2 separate regions of the Homo sapiens genome follow, and region 2 is linked to region 1. The links come from fine-mapping of genetic effects on gene expression. A gene starts in region 1. The other region holds a variant in brackets. All regions are shown on one strand. Distances are from middle to middle. Region 1 holds the start of PSAP (prosaposin). Region 2 overlaps PSAP (prosaposin).

Region 1 (5,519 bases):
GTTTGAGACCAGCCTGGTCAACATGGTGAAATCCTGTCTCTACCAAAAAATACAAGAAAACTAGCCAGGTGTGGTGGCGTGCACCTGTTATCCCAGCTACTCTGGAGGCTGAGGCAGGAGAATTGCTTGAACCTGGGAGGTAGAAGTGGCAGTGAGCTGAGATCGCACCATTGCACTCCAGCCTGGGTGATAGAGTGAGCCTCCATCTCCAAACAAAAAACAAAACAAAACAAAACAAAACAAAACAAAAAAAACAAGTCCTGGTTCAGGCTCTGTTGTTAACCAGCCCTGAGATGTCAGTAGCTCTATAAGATGAGAGGGGATGATCTGAGGTCTCTGAGCGTCCTTTTGGCTTGGGGTCCTGTAACCTCTGCATGGAGCACTGGGATGCTTTGCTCCTCCATCTGCAAGGAGCTGAAGGATGGGGGATTTGTCCTAGAGCCCCAGCTCCCTTGCTTTTTTTGTTTGTTTTTTTTTTGAGACGGAGTTTCGCTGTTGTTGCCCAGGCTGGAGTGCAGTGGCACGATCTCGGCTCACTGCAAGCTCCGCCTCCCGGGTTCACGCCATTCTCCTGCCTCAGCCTCCCGAGTAGCTGGGACTACAGGCGCCCGCCACATCGTGCGGCTAATTTTTTGTATTTTTAGTAGAGACGGGGTTTCACCCTGTTAGCCAGGATGGTCTCGATCTCCTGACCTCGTGATCTGCCTGCCTCGGCCTCCCAAAGTGCTGGGATTACAGGCGTGAGCCACCGCGCCCGGCTAGCTCCCTTGCTTTTAACCAGTTGTTGTGTGGTCTGCCCCACGCTTCTGCCTGGCCTTGGGAAGCCCAAAGGTGGAGCAGCCACGAAGTCTCCATCTGGCCACTGAGGCCGACCTGTGAGGCGTCCAGTTGAGACCACATCTTGTCCCAACTCACTCAGCTGCCTCACATGGCCCACTGTGGTGCATGGGGCACACTTCCCCATCTGGCTCCCCAGAGGAAGTCAGAGCTGTGGTGGGGGCTGGGGGCACTTAGGGAGATTGCAGGGGAGCAGAACTGAAGGTTCTGAGGCCTTAGTCCCTGGGGTTGTTCTCCAGAGCGGATTGCAGATTGGAGGAAGTTGGAGGAACTGTAGGTTTGCCCTTCCTGGGTCAGGAAACCTGGCTTCGGGCCAGGTTCTATCTCTACCTGTTGTGTGACCTTGGATAAACGTCTTGCCCTCTCCTAGGCTCAATGTCCCTACAGGTAAATGACCTCTAAGTGCCTGCCCTAAGGGGCTAAGATTCCCCTCCTTTCCCTGCCTTGCGGTTGGCAGGTTCTTATCCTTCTGGAGAGGGTCATCATCATTCTCTGTTCAGGTCCTGGCAGGGGCAGCCACAGGCAGAGGGTCTTTGGGTCTTAATTTCTGAAGGCTTCCATGTCACATAAAACGTTGATTACATAAATTTGTTATGCTTTTCTCTTAAGCTGTCTCGTTACAGGAGTGTTGGTTGTGACTCTTATGATCTCTTATGATGGGTGAGGAATGGTATTACATCTTTAACGGTACCACAATGTGAGGCTTAAAAGTTTTTTGTTTTTTTTTTTTTGGTGATGGGAATCTCTCTCGCTCTGTGGTCCAGGCTGCAGTGCAGTAGTGCGATCTTGACTCACGGCAACCTCCACCTCCCGGGTTTAAGCAATTTTCCTGCCTCTGCCTCCTGAAATAGCTGGAACCACAGGCGAGCGCCACCACGCCTGACTAATTTTTGTATTTTTAGTAGAGACAGGGTTTCACCATATTGGCCAGGCTGGTCTTGAACTCCTGACCTCATGATCCGCCCGCCTCGGCCTCCCAAAGTGTTAGGATTACAGGAGTGAGCCAGCATGCCCAGCCCAGACTTGCCTTTGACCAGGTGCCACCACCTGCCCCCACGTGCCCCTGGCCAGGACTGAGCCCTGTACCCTGTTACACGACTACTTATTCTATGTGAAACCCCAAGCTATTCTATGTGAAACCCGCTACTACAATGGGCTAATTTTTTTGTATTTTTTTTTTTGTAGAGATGGGGTTTCACCACGTTGCCCAGGCTAGTCTTGAACCCTCCGCCCGCCTCGGCCTCCCAAGTGTTGGGATTACAGGCGTCAGCCACCGCGGCCGGCCAACAATGTGGAGATTTAAAAGGTATTTTACATATATAATCTCTGACCTATTCAATTAGTAGGGCTTTTCTTTTATGACCTTTCCCTTCCCTTTCTCCAAGTTCTTCCTCACTCCTCCCCATAGCCCTTCCTTTCGCCCCTCCCATTGCCCCCTCCTATTGGCCTCCCCTTCGCGCAGGCGCCCTCAGAGGCGCTGAGTCAGGGCGCTGTTGAGCTCGGGCAGGCCCGGATGGGGCGGGGTTAGCGCCTGCGCTCTGGACGGCTTTGGGGCAGGGCAGATTTATATCTGCGGGGGATCAGCTGACGCTCCGCATTGCAGACTGCGGAGTCAGACGGCGCTATGTACGCCCTCTTCCTCCTGGCCAGCCTCCTGGGCGCGGGTAAGCCCTGGGACCCTCATCCTGGGGAGGAGGTGCCTCGCAGCGTCCATCTGCCCCAGAATGGGCTGTGCCGGGCCTGGCCCCTCTGCTCCCCCTGCCCTAGTTGGCAAGGGGGCGCGCGCACTGCGCAGGCGCGTTCGCTGGCTTTCTCTGGCTTTCTCTGGGCGGCTGGGGGCTGCGGGGGGCGGGCTGCGAAAATGCCCCCGGGAGGACGGCCCAGGCCCTGGGCAGCATCTCCTTCGGGGCTCGAGTGGGTTCCTGCGCGGCTGGGGCCCCGAGGCCTTCCCTCAGGCTGCGCTTCCCACTGTGGGGGTGGGTGAGTCTTGTAGGGTGACCCCTTGGGCAGCTGTGTTGTGCCTGTGCTGGGCGCACGTGATCGAGGTGGGCTGGAGCCCCGTCCCGCAGGACACTTTGGCCGTTGGCTTCAGTTGCCTGTTTGTAAGGGTAGCGAAGCTGCAGGAAGCACATGTGTATCATCTATATTGACGTTTGCATATGTATTTACTCTGGATTCTAGGTGTTGACAAAACGAGTCAAACTCTGTAAAAATATTTTGAGATTTATTCTGAGGCAAATATGAGTGACCATGGCCCGTGACACAGCCCTCAGGAGGTCCTGAGAACATGTGCCTAAGGTGGTTGGGATACAGCTGGGTTTTACATATTTTCGGGAGGCACGAGACATCAATCAAATACATTTAAGAAATACGTTGGTTTGGTTCAGAAGGGCGAAACAACTCAAAGCGGCGGGGGGCTTCCAGGCCATAGGTAAATTTAAACATTTTCTAGTTGATAATTGGTTGAGTTTATCTGAAAACCTAGAATCAATAGAAAGAAAGTATTCAAGTTAAGATAAAGGATTGTGGAGACCAAGTTTTATTGTGCAGAGGAAGCTCTCAGGTAGCCGACTAAGAGAGCGAGCACGTTGTAAAATATTTCTATGGAAATGAAAGGGTGACTGGCTCTTAGTTGATTATCTCCTGGATCTGGAGAGGAAGGAAGGAAAACATAGGGGAAAGGGGATTCTCTATAGAATGTGGATTTTTCCCACAAGAGACTTTGCAGGGCAATTTCAAGGTATGGCAAGGAAATATATTTTGGGGTTAGATATTTTGATTTTTTTTTCCTTGTCTTATAAAATGTTATGCCAGAGTCAGATTGGAAAGTAAGTCACGATATATGGGGTCAAATAAAACCCATCTGATGAGAGTTTATGGTTTGTAGGGTATGATTCCTACACCCCTTAGATAGGAATTTGGGCAAGCTAAAAAAAATCGGAGCTTAATTCTCATAGGTATTGAAGGCGATATAGGGTTTTCTGGTCCAGTTATTTTGCCATGGGGTCCTCATTTCACTTGCTTTGAAATGTCTTGCATCTGGGTGCGGTGGCTTATGCCTGTAATCCCAGCACATTGGGACACCGAGGTGGGAGGATCGCTTGAGCCTAGGAGTTGGAGACCAGCCTGGGCAACATAGCAAGACCCCACCTGTGAAAAAAAGAAAAAGAGAAAAGAAAGTCTTGCACGCTATTGGCCGTTTTTTTTTTGTTTGTTTGTTTTGTTTGTTTGTTTGTTTTTTGAGACGGAGTTTCGCTGTTGTTGCCCAGGCCGGAGTGGTGCAATGGCGTAGTCTCGGCTAACTGCAACCTCCGCCTTCCGGGTTCAAGCCATTCTCCCGCCTCAGCCTCCCAAAGTTCTGGGATTACAGGCGTGAGACACCGCACCCAGCCCCCACCACAATGTCTGTTTTTTAGTAACTATATGTAGTTTAAGGGCTGGCTGCCATTTTTAACCTAGCTACCCAAATTTTAATAAAAAGTAACAAAGTGGATGACAGGGTTGATGCAAAACCGAAGAAATGAGTTAGCTTTCAGCAGCTCTCAAGAATGTATCTTGACCCTATACGAAGCTCTTAAATTTGTTTTACTTGTACACAATGAAAGATGATCTGCTTATAAAAAAATCATTTTGATTTTATACTCAAGCTTATACTGCAGTTATTCCATGGTCTGTATAATAAACTAATGCTGGTCTCTAAATTTTTTATACTGATTCAGGGCAATTTTTTTTCTTTCTTTTTACATTATCCATTGTTCTTGTTGACGTTGAGTCACTCCTCACAAGACCCTTAAGAGTTCTGATTCATTCACATCACCCAAAAGGGACTCAATCGTGTCTCGGGAAATATAAAATCCACCTCTGGTATATATGGGCTTATGGTTAACCACAATATTTAGTTAACCAAGGGACCCTCTTCCGTGAACACTCGGGTAAATGGGAGGTATTGTAATGGCCTTGGTTTAACTTTGCTGTCCTACCTTTAGGATTAGGCCAAAGTCAGTGCTGATAACAGTGTTTGAATGCTCCCTGGCCTTCACAGCTCTGGCCCCTTTGTGATATTGTGAAAATGTTACTCCTAAAATTTCTAGACATGATAATGAGTTTTGTTAGTGAAAGTGCCTGGTGACTGCAGCCATTGTCTGCTGCCCGAGAGGCACTTAGAACTTTCTTCGTGACACTGTCGTAGTACAGAATGCCACCCTGAATCGGGATGGGCTTTGTATTTTGTGTTTCAGTGATGTCCTGGTGGTAGAGACACTTGCTTTTGAGTTACTTTTCTGCCCATCCAGCTGCCCCTCCTTTTTCCCCACCTAAAAGCGAAAGCAAAGCCATGGCACCATGAGAGAATTGGAGAGCATGTAATCTGACCCCTTTGTAAGGAATGAAGACCTGGAGGTGCCCAGAGGTGACTCTCCCAAATCATAGACCATTTACTGGGGATGCCAGGACCAGAACCCAAGACTCCACAGTGCTCGCTTTTTCCATATCCCTCTGTCCACATGGACCTCTTAACTTTTAAAAACTTAGTGTAAGTTACATACGTGGACGATTAAGTAGACAACTTGATGAATTACCACAAAGTGAGCAGCCCCCGAGGTTGGGGAGCAGTGCAGTAGCATCCAGAGGCCCCTGTTCACCCATTCACTGCCCTGTCCCACTTGCCCCGAAGGAAACATTGT
Region 2 (5,000 bases), 27 kb after region 1:
TTTGTTTAGCAATCTGTTTCTCTCTCCTCAGTGCAAGAACTATATCAGCCAGTATTCTGAAATTGCTATCCAGATGATGATGCACATGGTAGGTGGCACGGAGGCCCCTTGTTAGCATTTTTCTTTGTTTTTCAGGTTTCGTCATTTCTAGGAATTTTGAAAATTATATGGTTTAGTTTCCCTTTTTTACCTTAGAGTGCTGAATTGGGCTAAATCGACCCCTCTGGCTAGGAGACTCTCCACTTGCAATCTCAGTACCTCCCCTGTTACGGGAGAGGCAGGCTGAAGCATCTTGATCCCAGGACTGCCCTGGTGGCTTCCTGGCAATTTGTTTGCCTCTGCCCGTTCAGGCCAGCCATCAGGTTTCTAGGTCTGGCTTTAACCCTGGGATCTGTAGAAGTCAAGTGCTCTCTAACTAAGCCAGGCCTGAGAATGGCTGTGTTGCCACCTGAGTCGGGGGAATACTGCCTCCCGGAGTTTGTCCCGTGCATGGCAGCAGCGTCCGCTGAAGCTGCTGCTTGAGCTGGTAACTCCTGAGCTGGCTTTGGATGCATTCAGGTGGCAGGGGGCATTCCTTCATTAGAATCAAGAATACCCATTCAGGAAATGAGCTCGCTAGTCCACGCAGAGCAGGGCGGCCTGCTCACGTTGGGAACGGGCACTGCCTCCTTAGATCTGATTGGCAGGGCTGAGTGGGTGGGGGGCACCTTTTCCCTGTCTGTCATGCTTTCTGACTACTTGAGATTGACATACCAGCGTTTGAGTTTGTTCTCTGATCCAGGGGTCAGCAAACTGGCCCATCATGTTTTGTACTTAAAGGGTATTTTTTTGGAACACAGCGACGCCTGTTTTGTGCTACAGCAGCACAGTTGAGTAGTTGCAGCCAGATCTTATGGCCAAGGAGCCTGAAAGATTGACTCTCTGACCTGCTGTAACCACTCAAGCAAGCTGAGGAGGAGTAGTTTATTTGGGATTATTACTCACACCCTACCATGTTCTAAAAACAGTTAAAAGGCAGCTTACAGAGACATGCACCTGAAGTAGGTAAAGATAAGCATTGACGGGATTTAATCTCGTGAAGTACTTCCTCATAGCTAACTTAAAATATTTTTCTCATTATAAAAGTTATACTGTGTAGAAATGTGTTGAAAATATGGACAATACTTCCCACACAAAAATCATTTGGAGTTTCAGAATATATCAACGGGTTCATATATACTACCTTGTACTTTGTAGTTTGCATTTTTTGCCTAAAAATATGTTGGCCATTGAATATTCTTGTACAAATGACTAAATGCTTGCAGAATAATCACCTGTGTACATAGAAGAGAATTTACATAATTGGTCCCCGGTGGCCGGATGTATCTAGGTTGTTTTCAGGTTTGCCTTTGGGAAGATGAATATCCTTATAGCCAAATGCATACATATATGCATATCCCTGCCTTTCCCCTTATTATAGAGAACTAAAGCTGGAACTGCTGAATGGAAGCATGAGGCTTTGGATACATTGTTAAATTGGCCTTCCAGGCTGCCATTTGGCCACCTGCAGTAGATTGCCCTAGGATCCCTTACCCCTCAGGGATCCCTTACCCCCCTTACTTGGGCAGCCCTGTGTCTTGTTCTGTGGTGCTGCTGGTCACTAACCTGTGGGAAAGCCTTGTGGGCCCGGGGCCAGTGTGGGCTCCTGAGTATGGAGACCCTTCATCAAGCATTTTCTGGGGCTCTTGCTACACAGTGTTTTGAGTGTGATTTAGTGTGTAAGACCTGGAGATGGTGCACACAGAGCAGGACAGCCCCCAAATGGTCTATCCCTGCAGGGCCAGGAAAGCTTTCAGGGCCCCCTTGTCCGCAAGATAGCAGGAACAAGGTAGGTTGCTAAGATCTGATTGCAAGAGCATTTCCCCTGAACCTCTTGGGACATCCTTACACCTGGTTAACTGCTTGATTGTTGTTTTAATTTTTCTTAACTGTTGTGTCCTTTCCTTTCTCTTATTTTCACCTCCGATTTCCTGTTTTTTTGTTCAACAGCAGGATCAGGTATGTGTCGGGGAATCTGCTTGCAGTAGTGGTCTGCTGCTTCCTCTAGTTACTTTGCTTTTTTTTTTTTTGGGTATGGCATGATTAGCTCTGACAGATACAAGGAATGGTTACGAGAGGCAGGCTCCCTCTCTGTTAATAGGCTGGGGAGGGCTTCTGCATCTCTCCCCTGTAATTCAGCCCTTGAGGTTTTGGGGGTCTCATCTCCCCTTCGGGGTCCAGTAAAATGAAGCCAGCAGAGCCTTGTGCTCTGGTCACAGTCCACATACAGCATACGTACATGCAGGCCACCAGTGTGACAATGGGGAACCATGGGTGGCCCAGGAGGTGCCTCAGCCTCCTTCAACGTAGGCCAGTTAGGAAGTCCAGTGTAGGTCTGGCTTCCCCAGGGCACCTTGTGTCTGTCACAACGCAAGTAGGCATTGCATGTCTTTAGTGCTGTTTTTCATAAACACAGAAATGCTTCTGCTGCATGAGCAAACATTTGCAGACAGCCAGCAGACTGTTCCTGGCTGTTGGATCCAGAGAATTGGAAACAATCTCTTGATTGTGGCTTCTGCCCCTCTGGGTAACAGGGTCCTTTGGGATCTAGAGCCACATCAGATGGCATGCTACAAGAACCAAATGCCCAGTCCATACTTGCTCTGAGCCAGTGTCCTTCGGGGCCGTCCTGAACACTGCCACCTCTGAGCGTTGGCATCCATCTGCTAGGATTAGCATTGGAGCTTTTTTTGAAGGTATTTTGAAGTCTAATGGGAGAGGACTTTGGTTGAAATACCTGAATTTTTACCTAGGCCTCCTCAAGGAGTTGGAACAAAGCTGATCGAGGCAGAAGCAGCCCTATACCTCCTGAATATTGGCGT[C/A]TTTTTTTTTTTTCTAAAAAGCTTGCTGTATCTTCAGCTGCGTTCTTATTATTTATTTATTTATTTATTTATTTTTCATTCTTAAGGTGTGGCAGAGACAGGGTATTTGGGATATACTTTTCAGACTCCCCCGGTCTTATTAATTCTCGAACCTTCTTGATATTAAAACAAGATGAGCCATAGTCATGGTCTAGCTCTTTTCCCTTAACAGGTCCTGTTTTTAGCACTTTTGTTCCTGCTGCTTTAGGGTTTGGTGCTGGAAGGCAAATGCACTCAGGCTCAGAGCTAGTTGCTGGTTGCATTTATTTCCACAATATACAGAGTCTATACACTTGTCTCACTCTTGGCCATCAGAGTGTCATGGTCAGGATGTCTAGACTATCTAGTGCTCTGTGTTTGGTGTCTAAATGGTGAAAGGGGATCAATCTGGAGACCTTGTGGCTTAAAATGATTCATCCATTTGGCGGGTTGGGTTTTCATGTGCACTGTGTGCAGCTTGAACATAGAATGTGGTTTTTTAAAAAGCCAGCATTTCCCCTTAATGCATCATTTTAAATGGTCCTGCCGCTGAAAAATCTGGTGTGGTTTTATTTCTAACACATTTGGCTTTCTGTTAGTTTATGGGCATGGTAGTTCCCCCTCTAGAAAAAAGCATAGCTTAGTTCCTACCTAGAGTGACCTGAAAAGACACATTCTAGAACAGACCAGGTGTCCTTGGAGATGTGGAAGGTGCTGGGGAGTCTCCCTCGTGGTGGCCCTGGATGGAGACTCTGTTTGATGTTCCTTAGGAGCTTTGTGTGGTCTCCTCCCCGAGATGTAACTGGCACATATGCACTGCTTCAGACACGAGCCCTTTAACATGGAAACTGGAATCTGCCCCGTTGTGGGAGGGGGAGAGGGAGGTAGCCTTGACCTGGGCCCAGGGTGCTGTCCAGCTCCCTGTCCTCTGGCTGGATTGGGACTGAGGAGCAGTGGGCGTAGGCTTGCTGCTGACTGGTTGTTCTGTGCTCTCTTCAGCAACCCAAGGAGATCTGTGCGCTGGTTGGGTTCTGTGATGAGGTGAAAGAGATGCCCATGCAGACTCTGGTCCCCGCCAAAGTGGCCTCCAAGAATGTCATCCCTGCCCTGGAACTGGTGGAGCCCATTAAGGTACCTGGTGTCACTTTGTGTCCTGGTCAGGGCTGTGCAATGCCACACTACTCCCTGCTGTGTCACATCACATCTTACGAGTCACTTGTTTCTTTCGGTTCCCTGCCTGGCTCCTAAAGGTCTTTGAGTTTGTGATCACTGGTTTATCCTATCCCCTATACTAATGCAGCCCCCGACCCTGAGTTCTTTTGAAAACATTTTATTTCCTTGGTTGTAAACCCTAATGTTCGTGGGATCATTAGCCTGTGTATTTTCAGCATGCCATTCAAAGGTGACTTTGCAGTGCCTGGCTTCAGCCTCACCTTCTCACATGCACTGTCTGGGTCCTTCCCCATCCTGTGGCCCTGACAGACTGGATGTTCCCAGCACACCCCTCAGAGTGTACGGAAGCCTCACTGGGCCTGCAGCCTGTATACTAAGTACATGTGGGTGTCTATTTTATTTAACTAAAACACCTCACTTGGTGAAGATTAGACTACTTCATCCCATAATAAATTTGTATTTGGCATTTATTATGGGTCAGGCAGCATGTTAGGGGCTGTGGTGAACAGATGATGTCATTGTGCCCGTGGGGCTTACATTCTAGTTCTTCAAGGCCTGGGCTGTGTGATGCCTTAACACGTGGCACATGTACACGCTTCTTGTTCTAGAACATCCCACGGCACTTGACTGCCAGCTGTTGGTCTCTCTCTGCTGTCTCCTCTCTGCATGTGCAGAGTGTGTGACCCAGGGGCCAGGCCGAAGTGTCAGCTGGAATCCAGGAAGCACTGCTTCTTGCCTTCCTCTCCACCGGGTGCTCCTCAGCTCCAGCCTGCTGACCAAAGTGACGGCCAGAGAAAGTGAAGAGTTATAGCTCGCACTCCAACCACATGTGACTACTTAAATTTTAATGAAATACCATGGAGCAAAATTAAAAATTCAGCCCCTTGGCTACACCAGCCACATTGCAGG

The links. PIP is the estimated chance that this variant, and not a neighbour inherited with it, causes the effect.
Region 2: its variant is the best candidate, but not a certain one, in a credible set for the expression of PSAP in whole blood (TOPMed, PIP 0.85).

The regions. Positions count from the first base shown.
Region 1 is chr10:71,848,164-71,853,682 of GRCh38, reverse strand. PSAP (prosaposin) reads left to right here and starts at 2,432. Exons shown (of 14, transcript NM_002778.4): 1 at 2,432-2,501. The coding sequence starts at 2,462. RefSeq lists enhancers at 2,221-2,751, 2,752-3,282, 3,674-4,173.
Region 2 is chr10:71,820,925-71,825,924 of GRCh38, reverse strand. It overlaps PSAP (prosaposin), which reads left to right. Exons shown (of 14, transcript NM_002778.4): 7 at 32-88; 8 at 3,918-4,049. Among named protein-coding and RNA genes, the nearest start is that of PSAP, 28 kb to the left of the region's middle. The variant C/A (reference allele first, on the strand shown) is at 2,901.